2 separate regions of the Homo sapiens genome follow, and region 1 is linked to region 2. The links come from fine-mapping of genetic effects on gene expression. A gene starts in region 2. The other region holds a variant in brackets. All regions are shown on one strand. Distances are between the middles of the regions. Region 1 has its middle 17 kb from the start of GPR32. Region 2 holds the start of CLEC11A (C-type lectin domain containing 11A).

The links.
Region 1: its variant is fine-mapped to the expression of CLEC11A in whole blood (TOPMed, PIP above 0.99).

What each region holds. Positions count from the first base shown.
Region 1 is chr19:50,752,099-50,754,998 of GRCh38, reverse strand. No RefSeq gene overlaps it. Among named protein-coding and RNA genes, the nearest start is that of GPR32, 17 kb to the left of the region's middle. The variant A/G (reference allele first, on the strand shown) is at 1,670.
Region 2 is chr19:50,721,908-50,724,807 of GRCh38, reverse strand. CLEC11A (C-type lectin domain containing 11A) reads right to left here and starts at 1,444. Exons shown (of 4, transcript NM_002975.3): 1 at 1,136-1,444; 2 at 717-903; 3 at 207-398. The coding sequence starts at 1,282. RefSeq lists a silencer at 1-95.

The sequences.
Region 1 (2,900 bases), 30 kb before region 2:
CAAAAAGCCTCTTGCCTCTGTCCACTATGTCCTGTCTCCACAGCCCTATCATCCAAGCACACAGCGCCCCAGCATTTTTTTTTTTTTTTGAGACAGGATCTCACTGTGTTGCCTAAGCTGGAGTGCAGTGGTACAATCTTGGCTCACTGCAACCTCTGCCTCTCGGGTTCAAGCAATTCTCCTGCTTCAGCCTCCTGAGTAGAGTAGTTGGGACTATAGGCACACACCCTGGGGACATGCCCAGCTAATTTTTATATTTTTAGTAGAGACGGGGTTTCACCATATTGACCAGGCTGGTCTTGAACTCCTGACCTCAGGTGATTCATGCACCTCGGCCTCCCAAAGTGCTGGGAGTACAGGTGTGCGCCACTGTGCCTGGCCCTCAGCTTTATATTCATCTCCTACCAGCCACTCACCACCCTACAGCTAGAGTGATCCTTTGAAAGCCCAAACCTTGTAACCCCAGCGCTGTGGGAGACCCAGGCAGGAGAATCACTTGAGGCCAGGGCTTCAGGACCAGTCTAGGTGGCAAGGCGAAACCCTGTCTCTACAAAATAAAAATAAATTGGCCAAACAGTGTGGCTTGCATTGTAATTCCAGCTACCCGAGAGGCTGAGGCACGAGGATCACTTGAGCTCAGGAGATTGAGGCTGCAGTGAACCATGACTGTGCCACTGCACTCCAGCCTGGGCAACAGAGTGAGACCCTGTCTCAAAAAAAAAAAAAATACAGTTCAAACTGGAAAATTACACTGTGGCTCTTCATTGCTTGTGGGATAAATATGAGTCTCCCCGGCACCACTGGTGAGAGCTGGGGCACCTGCCAGCCTCTCCAGACTTCTCTTGCACCTTCCCCCTCTTTGTGCACCAAATCCCGGCTTCCCTACCTTTGTGTCCATTGCCAAGATTCTCATCTCCCTCCCACCCCAGGGCCTTTGCATGTGCTGCCCCTCTGCCTGGAACACCTTTTCTTTCCTCTGCTTTTTTTTTTTTTTAACTCATTCCTGCGATCTCAGTGCAAATTTCACTTTCTCCCCAAAGTTTTTCCTGCCCTTTTCAATCAGACCCTCCTATAGGAGCTTCTCTCCCATGAAGAGATGATTACAGGCTGGGAACGGTGGCTCACACCTGTAATACCAGTACTTTGGGAAGCTAAGGTGGGAGGATCGCATGAGGTCAGGAGTTTGAGACCAGCCTGGCCAACATGGTGAGACCCCCATCTCTACTAAAGATACAAAAATTAGCTGGGTGTGGTGGTGCATGCCTGTAATCTCAGCTACTTGGGAGGCTGAGGCAGGAGAATCGCTTGAACCCGGGAGGCGGAGTTTGGAGAGAACTGTGATCATGCCACTGCACTCCAGCCTGGGTGATAGAGCAAGACTCTGTTGTCCCCCCGTTCCCCCCGAGCCCCCACAAAAAAAGAGCTGGTTACAGGCAGCAGCAATTAGACCGCGTTTGTTGGATCATTTGGTGATCACCCATCTGCATTATTCATCTCTGAGTTCCCTAGAGGCGAGGCTGGTGTGTGGCTTGCTCCTGGCCCCTGGAACACAGCAGGCACTTGGTAAATAATCGATGAGTGATCCATTAAGGAGGGCAATCTCTCCTTTGTCATCTGAGGATGGATTCATTCATTTAGTGTAAAATTATGCATTGAGCCCAAATTGTAC[A/G]CCAGACACTATCCTAAGCGCTGGGGGTACCGCAGTGATGAAGACAGTCAAATACCTCTGACCAGGCACAGTTCACGCATATGGCATGAGAACATTCCTCACCCAGAGGAGGTGGCCCAGAACTTTCAGCCCCTTTTTGCCACCTCTTTTTTTTTTTTTCTTTTGAGATGGAGTCTCACTCTATTGCCTAGGCCGGAGTGCAATGGCACGATCTCAGCTCACTGCAACCTCTGTCTCCTGGGTTCAAGCAATTCTCCTGCCTCAGCCTCCTAAGTAGCTGGGATTACAGGCAGCTGCCACCACACCCGGCTGGTTTTTGTATTTTTAGTAGAGATGGGGATTCACTATGTTGGCCAGGGTGGTCTCCAACTCTTGACCTCAGGTGATCCACCTGCCTCGGCCTCCCTAAGTGCTAGGATTACAGGGGTGAGCCACTGTGCCCAGCCCACTACCTCCTTTTTGTATACCCTGGAGAGTGCCCTTCAACTCTCCTAATCCCCAAGCTCCTACCTCCTGGCTCCCTGAGACACACCCCGCAACGAATCCCGGTCCCGTCACCTTGTGCTGTGTCTGAGGGTGAGGCAAGGTGAGGGGGCTCTTTCTGTCTCTGTCGTCAGTCCCAGGTGGCCGCCAGCCTTGAGCCCACGTTAAAGGTAGGGGGCTGATGGCAGGAAGCTAGCTGTGAGTTTTGGAGCAGATAAACGTCCAGGAAAGAACCTTGAGCAAGAGCTTCAGAGATCGCTATCAGTCCGGGAAATGTCACCAGATGTGGGCCCTAATAATAGGCCCCAGGGGCTGCAGGCTTGGGGCATAAGGAGGAGGCGGGTGCCAGGGAGGTCTTTCCGCAAGGCCATTCCAATTCTCCTCTGCCCTCTTTGTGCTAATGAAATTTGTTAAGAGATACAAAACACTTAAAACTTCTTGCGGCCGGGCTCGGTGGCTCACGCCTGTGATCCCAGCACTTTGGGAGGCCAAGGCGGGTGGATTACCTGAGACAAGGAGTTCAAGACCAGCCTGGCCAACATGGCGAAACCCTGTCTCTACTAAAAATACAAAAATTAGCCAGACATCAGGGTGGGTGCCTGTAATCCCAGCTACTTCGGAGGCTGAGGCAGGCGAATTGCTTGAACCTCAGAGGTGGAGGTTGCAGCCGGTCGAGATTGAGCTACTGCACTCCAGCCTGGGCAACAGAGTGAGATTCATCAAAAACAAAAACAGAACAAAACAAAAA
Region 2 (2,900 bases):
TGGTGCTGCCCCAGTCGGGTCCGCGCGGGTCTGGAGTGCCCACCCGCTCCCTGCATTCAGCCTCCCAGCTCTCTAACCCCGTCCGCTAGCACACAGCAGCTCTCCCGAACTCTCCCGCCCCGGACACCTAGGGTCACCTTCTCAACCAGTCCCATTCCTGGCCCAGATAGTCTCATTTTTTTCCACCCCGCGCGCCGCGGACTCACCCTCCAAGCGGCCGTGCTCGCGCTCGGCGCGACCCTGCGCCTCCTGCAGGGCTTGCACGGCATCGCGGGTGTCGCCTGCCGCGTTCCGCAGCTGCCGCAGCCCCTGGGTCAGCTCGACCACGCGGGTGTCCAACGCGTGCAGACGGACGTGCAGCTGGTGCAGGCCTGCGTCCAGGCCGGCCAGGCGGCCCACTGCGGACAGACAGGGATCATGCTGGAGGGGGAGCCTGGAGATGCAGCGGGGGGCCTGAGGACCTGGAGAACTGGGATCTAGGGCTCCTGAGGGCGGGGTGGCGGTGGGGGGGGCACCCCGGACTCCTGGAAGGTAGGGTCGAGTGGCCCAGGCCTTTAGGAGGCATGGCCGTGGACCTGGGGCTCCTAGGGGTGTGGGGGCTCTGGGCTGGGCAATGGACAACTGAAAGGCCACTTGGCAGTGAACCGACCCTTCATTTTTGCGAAAGTGACCGCGGCGGCCTAGGAGTTTGGGGGTGAGGGCTTCTGGTTACTCACGGATGTAAGTGACGATGTCCTCAGGGGTGGGAGAGGGGCTGGGGCCGGAGGATGGGGTTGGCGTTGCTTCCTCCTCCTCTTCCTCCCCCTGGTCCTCCTCCATCTCCCAGTCCTCTTTTCCCTCAACAGTTCCGGCAGGATTCTCATCCCCCCTCCCAGCAGGCAGTCCTAGGGCTTCCTGCAGATGCTGGGGCAGGGGAGGGGTGGTGAGCCCCAGCCTGCCACCAAGATGCCCCATTCACCCCTTTCCAACTCATAACTCATTCTCTGCTGCCTGAGTCCTGTCTCTGAGCCCATCACCCTCCCACTCCTCTGAGACTATCCCAATCGCTCCTCATTGTCCATTTCCCTAACCTTGCAATACCCCCTCCCAGACCCACAGTTCACCACCCATAGCTCCCTGACACTCCAGAGCTCACCTTCAGCATCAGGGCCTCCCTCTCCCGCTCCTCCTCCTGGGCACCTCCCCAGCCTCCCTCCCACTCCCTCTCTGCTCCCCGAGCCCCATGGCCAAAGCCCAAGAGCTGGGGGACCACCAAAGCCCCCAAAAGCCAGGCTGCCTGCATTAAGCTGGACTCTTGGCACCCAAAGTTCCAGATGTCTGGATGTCTGGGGTGGGAGGGGTGGCCTCTGGGAACTGCCGAGTGCCCCTGCCCTGTGTGCAGGTCACTAGCCCCCAGGTTCCCGATTCTCCCAGCTTCTCTCTTCCTGTTCCTCTCCTCGTCTCTGTCCGGTCCGTTGGTCTCCTCTGCTTCTCTGTGTGTGTCTCTCCCCGCCCCTCTTGGCTCCCCGGAGGCCCTGCCTCTGTGGCCGGAAACCTCCAACGTTCCAAAGCCTAGATCCCGCCTTGGGTCTCCTCGCACACCCTCCTCTTTCCACTTTCCAGAGCTCGCTTCCGCCCTGCTCTTTCCTTCTGCTGTAGCCCAAAGATCAGATAATCAGGAAGAGGATGGAGCTGGCTCTCCAAGGAATCTTGGAAAACACAGGCCCCGGCCTCAGCCCAGGAACCCGCTCAGAACCATCTCGGCAGTGGTGGGATGCTGGGACCGAGCACTGCTCCCTTCTTCCCTGCCTGGCCATTCCTAAGGAGGGGCAGACCTCAGGGTCTCGCTGAGGTTGTTATTACCCTGTGGCCACCATCGCCTGCACACTCAATGGAGGAGACTCCAGGGCCCCTCCTGCCCCCTAGATTGCCCATCCTACCCTCCAAGCCCTTGTCTGGAGATCCAAGTGAGTGTGTGTGGGGGCAGGGTGACACATGTGAAGAGCACGCGTGTGACTGTGTGCATGACCCTGGAAGACGGGGCTCGGGGATTAATTGGCCACTTTACTAGAAGCCTCCTGCAGGCCAGGCTGTGGGCTGGGTGATGCTGGGGACTCCAGCTGCTTGCAGACCAGCAGCCAGATAGCTCCGGGGATGAGGGGGCTGGAGATGGGAGAGGGTGAGGAGTCTGGCGGAGCAGTCAGGGAAGGTTTCTCCAGGAGGTGAAATCGACAGACGCTAGGTTGTGTGCTCAAGGAGCTCTGAGCATTCAGCAAGCCACCTCATTTCAGCCTGGACCACTGCAGTCTCGCCCTCCCCCTCCTTCCTCCTGAGCCCCTCCAATCCCGGCTGCTTGCCGCAGCCAAAGCAATCCTTCCAAACCATAAATCAGATCACATCACTCCCCACTCCCCTGCTCCCCCACCTTCCCATCATAAGCAGGAGGGAAGCCAAGCCCGGGCCTCAGTCCTCAGCGCAGCCTACCATGCTGGGGGCTGGGAAGGAAGAACCCTTTGCACCTCTGCAGCCTCATCACCCCCATTCCCTTCACCCACCCCCAGCCTCCACCTTCCCTGGCCTCTTGGCTCATCCCCAAATACTAAGCTGATTACAACCTCAGAGCATTTGCACTAGCCCTTTCCTCCTTCTAGAAGCCTCTTTCCCCAGCTCCTTCTCATCATCGAGGTCTCAGCTCCAGGAGGTCTTCCCCAACCACCTTATCTATTCCGCAAGTTACTTTATTAAAATGCCCCATTTCATCTTTTTGGTATAATCAAGACTGGCATGATCTTGTTTGTTTATGTCTGTTCCCTGCCAATGAAAGCAGGGATTTTTATGCACTGATGCATCTCCTAGCACAAGGCCTACCTAGCACATAGTAGGTGTTCAATCAACCTGTTGAGTGGGCGAGAGGGTAGCCG